Linked DNA regions of Homo sapiens: regions 1 and 2 are each linked to region 3. Evidence: fine-mapped expression QTL. A gene starts in region 3. Each other region holds a variant in brackets. All regions are shown on one strand. Distances are between the middles of the regions.

Region 1 (5,398 bases), 140 kb before region 3:
CAAATTTCACTGTTCTTAGCAAAATTTGGTAGATTTTCTTAAATAAATGTTTCTTTTTATGCTGTATGCCCATAGAACAAGTTCCAAAGATTTAAAATGTTTGGGTTTCTTTTCTCAGTTTCACCAATTAGGTTGTTTCACTAGGGAGAGGGTACATGTAGGTTATTATGCCAAAATTCTGGAAATTGTCTACCAGTATCATATAATTTTAAACTAAGAATTTCAAAATTAAAGAAGCATATTAATTGCTCTCAATTATAAAACACATATGCAATAATAATTTTGGAGGATTGTATTAAAAATCACAACACTTAGTGCTCTATGACAATGTTCATTCTGCTCATGAATCTGCAATTTGGCAGAACTTCTGCCAAAGAGACTGTTCACTCTTGCTTTATTCCATGTCGACTAGGGTTACTCAAAAGTTAGAACTGAAATAACTTAAGGGCTCACTCATTCATATTTTTGGTGGGTTATACTTGGAAAATTCAAACCGCTGCAGGTTATAGTAGCTAGGGCTTCTTGGATATCGCTATCTTTATGTGGCCTCCCCATGTGGTCTCTCTAGCATGCTTCAGGGTAGCTGATCTTTTATATGTCACCTAAGGGCTTCCAAGGCATGTGTCCTCAGAGACAGGAAAAAGAGGAAACTCTGACTTTTTATGACCTAGCCTTGGAAGTCATAAAGTGTCATTTCTGCTCAAGTCCCAGGCCCACTAGATTCACCCATTTGCCCATTTATCTTGGCATTTCTATTTATAGAGATGAGTAAGCATGATACTCAGAAAAATAAAGAAATTTACCCAAATTATAGACCTAATAAATGAGAGAACAATGATTGAATAACTCTGTCTGGTAATATTCAATAAATGCTATTAAGATACTTGGTCACAACTTTTATATAAAAACAAATTTACACCCTGCGAGCGAGAAACAAAAATTCCTTCTAGGAGATACCAGGAGATAGACAAATCATAGTACGGACAACTCACACATTTCAACAATGTTATGTGATGTGTACACCCCGCTAGTAGAAATGCAATGTTTCAAGGGAGGCTAAGAGATGGAGCAATTTACTCTTCCTTGGGGGTGAGAGGGACTGCCCGGCTGAGAGGTAACATTTGAGCAGAACCTTAGAGGATCTTCAGCGATAGATAGTCTGTAGTTGAGGAAGAGAGGTCAGAGCCCAGGCCCAGAGAGCACAGGGCCACGGAACTGACATGGGGGGTGTGGAGATTCAGGGAAGGCTGGGCACTAAAGCATAACTGTGGGATATGGTGAAGCCCAGGTGTTGGGGGAGGTGGGGTCAGGAGATGAGGCTGGAAATAGGTTAGGCCTTGCTTGTGAATGACTTTGAATGACATACTTAGAAGTTGCTCTTTAACTTATGACTAATCAAGAGCCACAGCAGTTTATAAGTAGAGAAGTGATACAGTAAATTCCACATTTAGAAAGACCACTTCAGTGATTACATAGAGAAAAATGAAGGGATTTAATACTGGGGAATAAGACACAAGACAGGAGAGCAATGTAATAGACGGTGCTCTGGTGTTGAGAATGACATCAGAGGCATATCTTTTGTGTTTTTATTCCAATACTGTTGTAAACTTCTGAAGCTTGAAGGTCTGTGCAGCAAAAAAATCTCAGTGTAGGTAGAGGTGTAGCAGGACAAGCAGCAGACAAAACCCCTCAGACACCGAGTTAAAGAAGGAAGGGCTTTATTCGGCCAGGAGCTTCGGCAAGACTCACGTCTCCAAAAACCGAGCTCCCCAAGTGAGCAATTCCTGTCTCCTTTAAGGGCTTATAACTCTAAGGGGGTCTGTGTGAGACGGTCGTGATCAACTGAGCAAGCAGGGGGTATGTGACTGGGGGCTGCATGCACCGGCAATCACAACGGAACAGAACAGGACAGGGATTTTCACAGTGCTTTTCCATAAAATGTCTGGAATCTATAGATAACATAACCAGTTAGGTCAGGGGTCAATCTTTAACCAGGCCCAGGGCACGGCGCCAGGCTGTCTGCCTGTGGATTTCATTTCTGCCTTTTAGTTTTTACTTCTTCTTTCTTTGGAGGCAGAAATTGGGCATAAGCCAATATGAGGGGTGGTCTCCTCCCTTAGAGGTATCAACTGTTATTTAATTACATTTTAGCAAAATTTTAAGGGTGGTTTTTCTAGCAGTAGGAAAGAGGAAAAACACCAAAATTTGACTAAGTTATTTGGCTTTTATTCAATTCGTTTTGCTCTTTTTTTTCCTGTGACATGAGTTTGTTCCTGAAGGGCAAGGTCAAAGGAGTTTCTGACTAATGTATCCCTAAACTTCGTGCTGTTTTATTACTCTTCCATTGAGGCCAGCACACCTTAATATGACATTTTAAAATTCACAACGTTTTGTTAGCAAAATAGTTACTTTTTTTGCACTTTTATTTTTTAAAACAATTTTTTATTAAAACAATTATCTTATCAGAACCAATGACGATACCCATCAGCCAGTGTTAGTAATGCCAAACAGGCCTCTCAGCTTGCACTATGTTAATTATATTCAAAATAAGAATCCACAGAAAGAACTCAAATAAGTACAAATATTTCTTAATATATTTTTGGGATGGAATTCCTAATAGAGTCTATTCCTTGCCTGAAACCTGCAAATATACATTACTTTTAATGTTGTTAAGTATGAGTCACAAGTAGAGGTAAGAGGCAGTGAACACAATGTTTCTTACTGCAAATCTTTTTTTCCCCTCTAAAAATTGGAGTTGTCTTATACTATAGTCACTGAGGAGAGTTACAATAAGAACCATCAAAATTGTTAGTTGCAACTTGAGATAAATAAAATACACATAAATCCTCCCAAGTGGAAAAATATTCACTGTGTGTGTCTTTCATTTTCATTCATTAAGACAAAGTTCTGAAAGCCAAGTACTACATTTGTTGTTTAGTTCCCTTTTGCACTCAGAAGATTCAAAGGGAACTTGAC[A/G]TTAGCATTTCTAATCACCCTCTTTCAGTGAGAGCTGACACACAATCTATTTTGAATAGGCCTGAATGTCAATCACTGGTTTAGAGTCCACAAAGTGGGGAGGAGTGTGTTGAGTGTGAACACAGGGAGCTGCATCTCCTGCATTTGAGCTTTAGATTCCTGAGGGCACCCAAGTGAAGATGTCCATCATACAGCTGAATAGATGGTTCCAAATGTCGGAAGAAGACGCTGGATTGGAAATACAAATATGACTGGAAAATAAGTTGAAAAAACTTTCTTTAAATCTTTTCAAATGTACCCCAGTGTATCCAGACTCTGCTACTCCAGGCCACATGGCCAAGAAGTGAGTCTGTTGTATGAGAGCCAAAACGAAGGGTGGTGAGTTGGATGCATGGTTGGACAGTAACACTTCTTCTCAGTATAAGAGACTAGATGAAAGCCTAAGGAGAAAGATTGTTTAAAAAACAGGGCCAGAGACTATGAGGATTATAGGGAAGAGGAAATGGAGACACCTCATTCTTCAATGTTGGAAGCTGATCAAGAACATTTCTTGAAGTGCATGGAAGAGAACTCCGTGCTGAGTTATTATTCTACCCATTTTGGGAGCACCATCAACACAAATCACTTATCAGCCATTGAGTATTTCATTTTGAGTTACACTGGTCAGTGTTTGGGAACTGGCACAACCTCCTCTCCAGGGACTATTCTGCTGCAGAAAAACACAGGCCAAGACTCTTTGCCCCAAATCGAAGCTGAGGCTCCTGGACTACTTGGGAGGTAATAGTGTGAAGCCCACACCCTAGGCAGAGGGGGAATGAAGAGAGCTGTTTGGTCATTGTCCAACTTATGCAATTTAGGCCTATTATATCTTGGTACTTGTCTAGGATACTGTTAAACTCAGAATCTAGGTTTGGGATTGTATTGCAAACATAGTAGCAACACTAGATGAAGCCAAGTATATCTCTTTCAAGAATGACAAAAGGTCTGAAATTTTACTCTCCTTGCAGACAAACAGGTTAGCCTGCCACATTTTCACGGATGCTGGCAGGAGATACAAGACTCCCAGGTCATAGACAACTTTTTTTGCTCACAGCACAGCAGGCAGCATGAGCTCTGTGTTTGTTTCAATCCCCTCACCCCGCAATTTCCATAGGGGAATGAAGAGGCAAGCAAGTGATGTTGTGCATACATCACAGCCAAAGAACCCCAAGCTCAGGAAACCCCCATCTTTTATAAGGGACCTGTAAGTAAACCTACTTGCCTTTTCCCCAAAGGAGACATCATCTTTATCACACTGCACAGAAAACAAGCCTGCCCCTTGCTCCAGAGAGATACTATTTCCACACAGCCTGGCTGTTTGCTAGACAAACATCCTTGGAAAGATGGTTTGGGCATTAGTTGGCTTAGAAGAATGATTCTTAAGGGATGGCAGGAATAGCTATAATCCATGCTGGGAGAAGGTGGTATATTTCATTGATCAGTAATCATTAGTTAATAGCTAACTAATTGTAACCAAATTACAATCCATGAGACCACGCATCAACCAAACAATATCTGTTATGCAATTCTATGTGAAATACAACAAATTATTTCCCATAGAAACAAAAACATCACCCTTGACTAGACAGGACTGAGGGAATTATTATAATTGTTCAATTTATACTTGGTGTACAGGCTTAAACACAGAGGCAGTAGTTAACACCACAGGCTAGGATGAGTTGGGATTACCCACGGAATATAATAAGTAAAGATGTGATGAAGGACGGCCAAGATGGGAAACCAACTGAATAAACTTAAGGCACTTGGCCAAACCCTGGGTCAGCGTCTTAACATTGCTGCCAGCATTACACTTGCACATTTAATGAAGATTTCTTAGTAACAAGATCTGACTGAGCTTGAAGCTGCTTCTAACCTTGAATGTTTAATTTCATAAACCTGTAAATGACTTGTTTTCCGTCCTAGGAATACCTTGAATGAAAAATAGTACACACTGAGAAAGTATATTATGTTAGTGCACAGCAGGAAGGATTATCACAAAGGCACTTATCGTGAAATTAGAACCCAGACCAAGAGTTAGAACAATCCCAAACCCCATATGCTCCTCTTAATCTCCTTACTATTGGTACCCTGTGTTCATTTCCAAAGGCAACCACTGTCCTCACTTCCAACATCATAGATTATGTTTATCTTCATTTGAACTTTGTTACACAATGGCATCATGTGGTATGCATTTCTTGTGTCTGGCTTCTTTCTCTCAGTATCATGTTTGCAAGATTTATGGTGTTGTATTGTGTGCAGCCATAATTAGTTCATCCTAATTACTGAATAGTATTCCATTGTATGAATATATCACAGCTTATTCATTCATTATAATCTTGATGGAATTTTGATTTGTTTTTAGTATTTGTCTATTAAAGATAAC
Region 2 (5,450 bases), 130 kb after region 3:
GAAAAAGATGCATTTTTCTTTTAAATATTTTTATTTTATACAATGATTACAAGCTTATAATAGAAATTTGAAAATTATATGTGAGTACAGGGTAAAAAGTTGAAAGAATGGGATTGCACGCTACAGATCTAGCTGCTTTTAGCACGCCTGCGTAGGACCTTGCTTTCTCTAGACCTCTGTTGCAGTCTCTCTGCCTACCTCCTCACAACGTCCATCCCCCGCGGTCACTGTCGTGATGCCAGCCTCCCCGGCCTTCATGTCTCTAAGGAGCACCAGCGCGGCAATTAGCGCCCTTTGCCTTGGTGGTATTCTGGCTTCACAGTCACATGGGAGATCAATCGTCAGCTTTTCTGTTTGAAATCTAAATTCTTCCTGACTGCAGGGGACCTCGGGACCCATGAACACCTCTAGTTTACTATGTCTTCACAGTAAAAGATATCTGCATGACTGGACTCTTTAACAAATTTGGTGGTTAACCTACTCTTTCTATATAGATATAGCACTTCGACCTTCAGACTTCTCAATACTGATAAAAAGAAAACACGACAGATGACAGGAAAACCTTTGCAGCTATAATTTGTAATCGGCCAATTATAAAAACTGCAAAAATTGACCAGATAGCTAAGGTTTTACACAGTCATGAAAGTGATCTGCACTGTTAACATTTCACCCTCTGTGCACCATTCTGTGCTTCTCTCTGGTTTGGAGTCTAGAAGGTTTTATTTACAGGCTATGACTTAACAATCCCAGAACGGCTGACACATGCAGTCACTCAAGACTGGACACAGCAAGGAAGTAGTGGGTCCATGCCAAAGGCTCAGCCAGACGAGACACTCTAGCTGTGGCAGGAGATGCCAGGGAATGCTCCAAGCCTAAGCAGATTGTAAACAAGGAACCTCAAATTCATGAAAAATTCTTGCTTATGTGGCCCATGTCAGTAATTACTCTCTGCCTCAGTTTCCGCAGCTGACATGTAAATAAAAGCAGTTCATGGTTCATCTTCTTTTCTTATCGGGGTCTCAAGTGATTCTACAAACCAGCCAGCCAAACAATCAGAGAATAAGTTGAAAAGATTGTCTTCATTTATTGAATGTGCTTAACTCAGGCCCGGGAAAGGGCGTCATCAGTTTCTCATCATTTCACTGAGATATGCATCTATTACTTTTACATTTCAGGCCAAAAGTGTGATCCAAGCTGTCCCAATGGGAGCTGCTGGGGTGCAGGAGAGGAGAACTGCCAGAAACGTAAGTCAGTGAACAGCCTCAGACCCATGTGTGACCGCCCCTCTCTTCCTTCACTTGCTTAGGTGATTGGATTTGTTTTCCCTCTGAAGACTCCAAAGAGTTACTTTATTACAGGGTCAGATGTGAACCAGTAGGTGAAGGACAGTCTTGCAAATCTCACCGCATGCAGTTAATCCAGGGTGGGCTATTTTGGGAGCTTCAGCCTATCACAAATAAGTGAACATCAGCAGGGGCTGGGCGCGGTGGCTCACCCCTATAATCCCAGCACTTTGGGAGGCGGAGGCGGTCGGATCACGAGGTCAGGAGATCGAGCCATTCTGGTTAACACAGTGAAACCTCGTCTCTACTAAAAATACAAAAAATTAGCCGGGCGTGGTGGCGGGCGCCTGTAGTCCCAGCTACTCGGGAGGCTGAGGCAGGAGAATGGCATGAACCTGGGAGGCGGAGCTTGCAGTGAGCCGAGATTGTGCCACTGCATTCCAGCCTGGGCGACAGAGCGAGACTCCGTCTCAAAACAACAACAACAACAACAACAACAATAAGTGAACATCAGCAAGTACCCCAGCCCTGTCCTCTGAACACAGCACACTTTCCCAGGAATGGAAGACTTGCTCCTGTTGACAGCAGTCACCAGACTTCTTGTTTCCTCTCCCTCCCTGGCTTTCTTTGGTACCCACCTACACAGAAGCCTGAGCACGGGTTCTCATGGGGACTTTTCCATGTGGACCCTGCTTTACGATGGAGAGGGCCATTCTCCTAGGTATGGTTGTCTGGCTCAGCCTCTCAGTGGCCAAGGAACCTGGGGACATGAGCTCAAAAACGGACACTATGTCCTTAAGCTGAATTGTGGGGGGGCTGTTAGGCCCTTCTAAACACTACTTCCCAGCAGGTATTTTTGTTCTTTGTATGTGCTTTCTGCATTGCCCAAGATGCATCTAATTATTTAGCAGGTCTCAAAGTCTAGACTTGATCTCATGAGTTCTCTTAAGTGATTAAAAATAAATCAGGAGAAAAAAGAGGCAATCAGAAAAGGGCATGGTTTGACTTAGTTTGAATGTGGTTTCGTTGGAAGCAAATGTGTCTTCACTTTTTCATGAAAAAGTCTGCAAGTGCTCTGCGAC[A/G]TCCCTGGGAAATGATCCTACCCTCACTCTTCAGCTCACAGGGAACCTTTGCTCTTTTTCAGTGACCAAAATCATCTGTGCCCAGCAGTGCTCCGGGCGCTGCCGTGGCAAGTCCCCCAGTGACTGCTGCCACAACCAGTGTGCTGCAGGCTGCACAGGCCCCCGGGAGAGCGACTGCCTGGTAAGATGCCCCTCCAGCAGCCTCCCTGGAGCAGGCTGGGGCTGCACCCGCCCCACCCACACCAGGACAGAAGACTTCCTGTGGGGGAGCTGTCAATTAGCATTTGTCATAACAGACAGGATATTGCCCTCTGCCTGGTGACAAAGTATCTTTAGTATCCTGCCTCCACCACTCACTGAGACCTTGGGAAAATGATGGGACTACCATGCCTCCATTTCCTTACCTGACAATGATGCATAACAAAGTCTCTCCCAGTTGAATGCTTAAATGATGAGATGCCTGTGATGTCCGTCATTAGGACCTGGGCACAGAACAAGCACTAAATACTACATGCAAGTATTTGTCATGAATGTGCCTTGTTGCCAGCAGCACACTCTCTTTATTGTTTGACTTCGGCTATACCTCTAGAGACTTGACACTGTGAGGTCCCTAAGAGACCCATGGAGAGCCACACAGGTCTTGCTGGCTGGGGCTGGGTTAGGGCCTCCTGACACGGATCCCTCGGCTCCTCCACCACTGCTCAGGCACCTCCTGAGCTGCACCCTGCCCTCAAGGGGTCCTGAAGTACTCACTGTCGCCCCATTGCTCCAGAAAGTGCCAGCAGAAGCCTTGCTGCCCCAGCGGGCTCTGAGCAGCACTGGAGGGTACAGGTCAGAAGCGTCTTGGAAGTCCTGGAGACGCCAAGGCTGGTGGATGTGACTCCTGGAGTGGGAGCTGGTGTGACGAAGCCCTTCCTAAGACTAAATCCAGAGCACTCTGTGGTTTCAGAGAAGATTCCTAAATTCCAGAGTTTGGACCCAGACCCAGGAATTGTGACTTGGTTGGCCTGAGCTGTTTCTAATGTGAGCCCCAGGGAGAAGACTGTGCGTGGGGTTGGTCCTAGGAAAAGCCCTCGCTGTATTGGGTCTGGCTCCTTTACACGGCATTGTTCTAGCAAGGCTTTCTGCCATTCAGCAATACATTATAAAATATACCCTCAATTGTACTTTATAAGGGAAGCCCAATGTCCTTTATAAGGGAAATTAAACATAATTTCATTCCATAGTCACCGCTATAATGTGTGAACTCCATCATCTATACGTTAGTAAACAGACGTATTTTTATCATAATCCATAAATTATGATAGGTGGGACAGTGCACCTAAGAAAAAAATGGACTTTTTAGAGAAGGGTCTTTCTGACTCTGCAGAGGGCGCCAGCTGGGTTTTCCCACACTAGTGGAACACTAGGCTGCAAAGACAGTAACTTGGGCTTTCTGACGGGAGTCAACACCGTGCTGCGCTTCCTCCGTGTGTGGCGCTGAGTGTACTTACCTCACTTGCCCAGCGTGTCCTCTCTCCTCCATAGGTCTGCCGCAAATTCCGAGACGAAGCCACGTGCAAGGACACCTGCCCCCCACTCATGCTCTACAACCCCACCACGTACCAGATGGATGTGAACCCCGAGGGCAAATACAGCTTTGGTGCCACCTGCGTGAAGAAGTGTCCCCGTGAGTCCTCCTCTGTGGGCCCTCTAACTGGTCAGGCATCCTTGTCCCGCTCTGTCTCCTGCTGAGCCCTGGAGTATCCCATCTTGGAGAGTCTTTGGGTGGATGTGTTTGCCTTGCTTGGAGGAGGCGACCCTGTGCCCGTCCAGGCACACAGGCGAGGGGAGGGGCTGGCTTGCTACCGAGGAGCGGGCAGGTGGTGGCCATCTCCACCCATGGGGGCTGCTCAGTGCACAGGGCAGATCTGGGTGGCCAGGCCACCTCACAGGAGAAACACCTGCTGCTCAGCCCTCACCACTCATCCAGCAGCCACAGCCGTGGGTATTCAGTTGTCTGCTGGGCACAAAGCCGTGGGCATGCCACTGTTTAGTGCTTGTGCCAAGCAGGTATTTAATACACCGAAATCAGAGAGTCTATCAGAAGACCTGCCTTCTTGAGTGGTTAAAATTCTAGTGAAAGTTATGCCTCTTAGGAGTATTGCAGAGGTTTTGTTTTTGTTTTTATTTTGTTTTGTTTTAATGGTTTGGGTTTGAGTTTTGCTTGTTTGTACTTACATTTGTACTGGTGGCTCCAGGGTTTAGGGAAATTGTGACATAAAATAATTCCTGACAGAGAAAGCAAAACTTTGTCTAATGAAAGAGTTTTAGAAGCCACTCTTGATCTCTAGAAGGGGAGATTAACTGAGAAAAAAAATTGAAAGAACAATTATGAGGGGGAGATTTTACCCTGCCAGATTTGTGTACATGAAAAATTTTACATTCCGTATGGAAAAAAAAAACACAAAATAATAAGCCATTATAAGGTAAATGACAAACAAAGCTAAAGAAAAATGTGCCACAGTGATGACACAGATATATCTTTGAGATAGGGCTTAACAGAGCTTTAAAATCCATAGGAAAACACTTCGAGCCTGAGATACCAAGAGCAGATGGTTCACAGAAGAATCATCAATGTCCTATAAATATTTTTGAGGATCTTCTTGGGGAACTTAAAACAGGAACAGGCCAGGCACAGTGGCTCATTGGCTCATGCCTTTAATCCCAGCACTTTGGGAGACTGAAGGGGCTGGATTGTCTGAGGTCAGGAGTTTGGGACCAGCCTGGCCAACAGGGTGAAACCTCGTCTCTACTAAAAATACAAAAATTAGCCGGGCGTGGTGGCGCACGCCTGTAATCACAGCCGCTCAGGAGGCTGAGGCAGGAGAATTGCTTTAACCCAGGAGGCGGAGGTTGCAGTGAGCTGAGATCACACCACTGCACTCCAGCCTGGGTGACAGAGCAAGACTCCATCTCAGACAAACAAAAAAGGAAGACATAGAGCTCCTAAAAATAACGCAGAAGTCTGCTATTAATACAAATGAATTACTTTAAAGGTGAGAGCAGGTGGAGGAGAGGGCTGAGGTGCCTGCTGGGACGCAAA
Region 3 (5,000 bases):
TCATCAGAGGAAAAAAGTTTCTCATGTACAGCTGGCAAAGGGATGGAACCATCTGTGTTATTAAAATTGACAGACGCTTATGAGATTTATTAAGGGAAATACTAGAGTCTTAGTACATACTTGCTAATATAGCATACATGAAGGCTTTATCTATAATTTTTTTGGCCAAGCAGAAATTTTGGTATTACTCACCCTAACAAATTTCCAAGACATTATGAAATAGAATTTTAGGTCCTGACATCACCATTTGTCTCAGGTTTTGAAGCGTTGCTGGACAAGAGGGGTAAAACACGGCTCTGCCTTGGATTCAAAGTTGGCCTCTCATACTAGCAAGTATACCTTGGTATCCTGGTCACTTCTCCCGGCCACAGCATCACATTGCTATAAAAGGCAGATACAAGTATTAACCAGCTCACAGGTTATCAGATAAGCTTAGTCTGACCAATGCTTAACACAGCAACTGGGCCACTATTGTCATTCCTGTGGTGGTGGCACACACACCCAGCCTCTGTCCGGGCCATGGTCTAGGACCACCCTCCACAGAGGCTGTGAGCTAGAGCCCTAACTGTGCAGGGCCCTAACTATGCCAGGCTACTTATCTCTCTTAAGAGGACTTCATTAGTGCCTGCTCGGCCATACAGTTTTTTACTTACCAAGTAACACAGTTATCAGCACACTCCAGGTACTAGCCAAGGACTACAAAATCAACGTGAATGTCAGCTTTTGTATCAAAAGCTCAAAGGAGAAACTCAAACTTTACATAGATGTCCCATGAAGATGTTCAGCAAACCCATTCTTCTCTGTTCCCTGGAATCCATCCCAGTATTGTGCTATGTGTGTGTCTAGTAATTCTTTACAAAAAGCTCTGTTTCTTGTGATGCTATCAGATCACATTGAAGAATATACAAGCCGTACTATGAAGGCTGTTGTCTCATATAGTCCTAACGTAGTGAGAACTGATGTTCTTACATGCTGTCTTTTTGGGCACTCAAAGAAATTCCTGTACAGTCTTACAAATCAGTTGTAGCTTAAATTGATTTGTGTTGTGACTTGTACACACAGGTCACATTCCCTTGACAGAAAATATAGTTTAAAACCAAATTTGCAGCCCTTGTTAAGTGAATGCACAGGACTTTATTGTATTCAGGTCTTTTATTGTAAGACTCACTCCTGTCTTCATTTTATGTTCCACTGTTGTGCTTCCCATTTGCCTTTCTCTAGTTTTGTTTTCTGTGTTTCTACGGACTGCTCTCAGCCCAGGTGTGCAGGAAGCACACACATGCCTGCAGAGCCTTCATGGCCTCTGCATTCAGGGCATGACTTCAACGCACAGTGGCTGTACTGATTTGTTAAAACAAAGGAACAGATTACTTCTCCTAATTCACAGGGAAGTTCCAGGTTGTGCGGGCAGTGAGCAGACCTGTGTCTGTCTGCGCTTGCCCTGGTGAAAAACCCCACCGTTCAGGCTGCAGGGTGCGAGACCCAGGCACAAACATTTTGCTGGATGAGGAGGAAAGATGTAAGGTTGCTCCCCTTCAGAGACAGCAAAGGGCAGGTCTGTAGCTTCACTTACTTCAGGATTGTGATTTTTGACAGAGCCGAGAGATCAGGGTTGTTGAACCAGGCCTGAAGGTCCTAGTGAATCTCGTGAAGAGAGGAGGGGTCTGGCTGTAACATGGACCTAGAGGACATTTTTACTGCAGGAGAAGGAACAGTGGGGATGGGGTGGACTTGCCAAAGGAATATAGCTCAAGTTCCTGCAGCCCAAAAAAGCTCAGTTTCTTTTGGCCAAAGCTTCCGCGAGTTTCCCTGGCATTTCTCCTGCGGGAGCTACAGGGGCAGTGGGACACTTAGCCTCTCTAAAAGCACCTCCACGGCTGTTTGTGTCAAGCCTTTATTCCAAGAGCTTCACTTTTGCGAAGTAATGTGCTTCACACATTGGCTTCAAAGTACCCATGGCTGGTTGCAATAAACATTAAGGAGGCCTGTCTCTGCACCCGGAGTTGGGTGCCCTCATTTCAGATGATTTCGAGGGTGCTTGACAAGATCTGAAGGACCCTCGGACTTTAGAGCACCACCTCGGACGCCTGGCACCCCTGCCGCGCGGGCACGGCGACCTCCTCAGCTGCCAGGCCAGCCTCTGATCCCCGAGAGGGTCCCGTAGTGCTGCAGGGGAGGTGGGGACCCGAATAAAGGAGCAGTTTCCCCGTCGGTGCCATTATCCGACGCTGGCTCTAAGGCTCGGCCAGTCTGTCTAAAGCTGGTACAAGTTTGCTTTGTAAAACAAAAGAAGGGAAAGGGGGAAGGGGACCCTGGCACAGATTTGGCTCGACCTGGACATAGGCTGGGCCTGCAAGTCCGCGGGGACCGGGTCCAGAGGGGCAGTGCTGGGAACGCCCCTCTCGGAAATTAACTCCTCAGGGCACCCGCTCCCCTCCCATGCGCCGCCCCACTCCCGCCGGAGACTAGGTCCCGCGGGGGCCACCGCTGTCCACCGCCTCCGGCGGCCGCTGGCCTTGGGTCCCCGCTGCTGGTTCTCCTCCCTCCTCCTCGCATTCTCCTCCTCCTCTGCTCCTCCCGATCCCTCCTCCGCCGCCTGGTCCCTCCTCCTCCCGCCCTGCCTCCCCGCGCCTCGGCCCGCGCGAGCTAGACGTCCGGGCAGCCCCCGGCGCAGCGCGGCCGCAGCAGCCTCCGCCCCCCGCACGGTGTGAGCGCCCGACGCGGCCGAGGCGGCCGGAGTCCCGAGCTAGCCCCGGCGGCCGCCGCCGCCCAGACCGGACGACAGGCCACCTCGTCGGCGTCCGCCCGAGTCCCCGCCTCGCCGCCAACGCCACAACCACCGCGCACGGCCCCCTGACTCCGTCCAGTATTGATCGGGAGAGCCGGAGCGAGCTCTTCGGGGAGCAGCGATGCGACCCTCCGGGACGGCCGGGGCAGCGCTCCTGGCGCTGCTGGCTGCGCTCTGCCCGGCGAGTCGGGCTCTGGAGGAAAAGAAAGGTAAGGGCGTGTCTCGCCGGCTCCCGCGCCGCCCCCGGATCGCGCCCCGGACCCCGCAGCCCGCCCAACCGCGCACCGGCGCACCGGCTCGGCGCCCGCGCCCCCGCCCGTCCTTTCCTGTTTCCTTGAGATCAGCTGCGCCGCCGACCGGGACCGCGGGAGGAACGGGACGTTTCGTTCTTCGGCCGGGAGAGTCTGGGGCGGGCGGAGGAGGAGACGCGTGGGACACCGGGCTGCAGGCCAGGCGGGGAACGGCCGCCGGGACCTCCGGCGCCCCGAACCGCTCCCAACTTTCTTCCCTCACTTTCCCCGCCCAGCTGCGCAGGATCGGCGTCAGTGGGCGAAAGCCGGGTGCTGGTGGGCGCCTGGGGCCGGGGTCCCGCACGTGCGCCCCGCGCTGTCTTCCCAGGGCGCGACGGGGTCCTGGCGCGCACCCGAGGGGCGGGCGCTGCCCACCCGCCGAGACTGCACTGTTTAGGGAAGCTGAGGAAGGAACCCAAAAATACAGCCTCCCCTCGGACCCCGCGGGACAGGCGGCTTTCTGAGAGGACCTCCCCGCCTCCGCCCTCCGCGCAGGTCTCAAACTGAAGCCGGCGCCCGCCAGCCTGGCCCCGGCCCCTCTCCAGGTCCCCGCGATCCTCGTTCCCCAGTGTGGAGTCGCAGCCTCGACCTGGGAGCTGGGAGAACTCGTCTACCACCACCTGCGGCTCCCGGGGAGGGGTGGTGCTGGCGGCGGTTAGTTTCCTCGTTGGCAAAAGGCAGGTGGGGTCCGACCCGCCCCTTGGGCGCAGACCCCGGCCGCTCGCCTCGCCCGGTGCGCCCTCGTCTTGCCTATCCAAGAGTGCCCCCCACCTCCCGGGGACCCCAGCTCCCTCCTGGGCGCCCGCGCCGAAAGCCCCAGGCTCTCCTTCGATGGCCGCCTCGCGGAGACGTCCGGGTCTGCTCCACCTGCAGCCCTTCGGTCGCGCCTGGGCTTCGCGGTGGAGCGGGACGCGGCTGTCCGGCCACTGCAGGGGGGGATCGCGGGACTCTTGAGCGGAAGCCCCGGAAGCAGAGCTCATCCTGGCCAACACCATGGTGTTTCAAAATGGGGCTCACAGCAAACTTCTCCTCAAAACCCGGAGACTTTCTTTCTTGGATGTCTCTTTTTGCTGTTTGAAGAATTTGAGCCAACCAAAATATTAAACCTGTCTTACACACACACACACACACACACACACACACACACCGGATTGCTGTCCCTGGTTCAAGTGTGCCAAGTGTGCAGACAGAACATGAGCGAGTCTGGCTTCGTGACTACCGACCATAAACCCACTTGACAGGGGAAACATGCCTTGGAAGGTTTAATTGCACAATTCCAACCTTGAGCTGCGCGGGTTCCAAGAGCCAGGCCCGTACTTGCTGTTGATGTCATTGGCTTGGGGAGTTGGGGTTTGGTGCCCAGCGCGGTCGTTGGGGGAGGGGCAAGGCATAGAACAGTGGTTCCCAGACCTTGCTGCACATTGGAATTACCTGGGATTAAAAAAAAAAAAATCAAAACAAAAACCAGTGTCTGGCTCCCGCCCCCAGACATTCTGATTTAATTGGCATGGGGCAAGACCTGGACTTGGGATTTTTTTTAATGCTCTTCATGTGATCTGTTGGGCAGCCAGATTTGGGGATCACTAGACGGAAGAAGGATTGTTAAAGTCTCCGGAGATGTTACTTGCCAATGCTAAGAGCTCTTTGAGGACATCTGGAATTGTTACAATATTGCCAAATATAGGAAAGAGGGAAAAGGTAGAGTGTGATTCCAATAATAAAGGATTCCGCTTTTCATTGAAGGAACTGGTGGAAAGGTTTCTTCTCTGCTGAGCCTGCAGGCCCGTCCTGCCTGCCTGGGGTGCCCGGGAGACGCGGGCCTGCTCCGGAGACTGCTGACTGCCGGTCCTGTTAGTCAGGTGTCAGCCCTGTCTCTGCCGAAGAGACTCTTCTCTTTATTTTAAATTAAACCCTCAGAGCAC

Direction of the effects. Alleles are on the strand shown, and positions count from the first base shown. SD is a standard deviation of normalised expression in the study named.
For the expression in prefrontal cortex of the gene that starts at base 2,649 in region 3, allele A in region 1 goes with a higher level than allele G (moderate effect, 0.54 SD a copy in CommonMind).
For the expression in sun-exposed skin of the gene that starts at base 2,649 in region 3, allele A in region 2 goes with a lower level than allele G (small effect, 0.19 SD a copy in GTEx).

What was found. PIP is the estimated chance that this variant, and not a neighbour inherited with it, causes the effect. A credible set is the group of variants that fine-mapping cannot tell apart.
Region 1: its variant is the best candidate, but not a certain one, in a credible set for the expression of EGFR in prefrontal cortex (CommonMind, PIP 0.56).
Region 2: its variant is the best candidate, but not a certain one, in a credible set for the expression of EGFR in sun-exposed skin (GTEx, PIP 0.71).

What each region holds. Positions count from the first base shown.
Region 1 is chr7:54,878,587-54,883,984 of GRCh38, forward strand. No RefSeq gene overlaps it. Among named protein-coding and RNA genes, the nearest start is that of SEC61G-DT, 120 kb to the left of the region's middle. The variant A/G (reference allele first, on the strand shown) is at 2,977.
Region 2 is chr7:55,150,119-55,155,568 of GRCh38, forward strand. EGFR (epidermal growth factor receptor) reads left to right here. Exons shown (of 28, transcript NM_005228.5): 5 at 1,176-1,244; 6 at 2,428-2,546; 7 at 3,893-4,034. Among named protein-coding and RNA genes, the nearest start is that of EGFR-AS1, 36 kb to the right of the region's middle. RefSeq lists an enhancer at 1,987-2,795. The variant A/G (reference allele first, on the strand shown) is at 2,366.
Region 3 is chr7:55,016,369-55,021,368 of GRCh38, forward strand. EGFR (epidermal growth factor receptor) reads left to right here and starts at 2,649. Exons shown (of 28, transcript NM_005228.5): 1 at 2,649-2,997. The coding sequence starts at 2,910. LOC105375284 (a long non-coding RNA gene) reads right to left here and starts at 2,554. Exons shown (of 4, transcript XR_007060329.1): 1 at 193-2,554. RefSeq lists an enhancer at 3,649-4,323.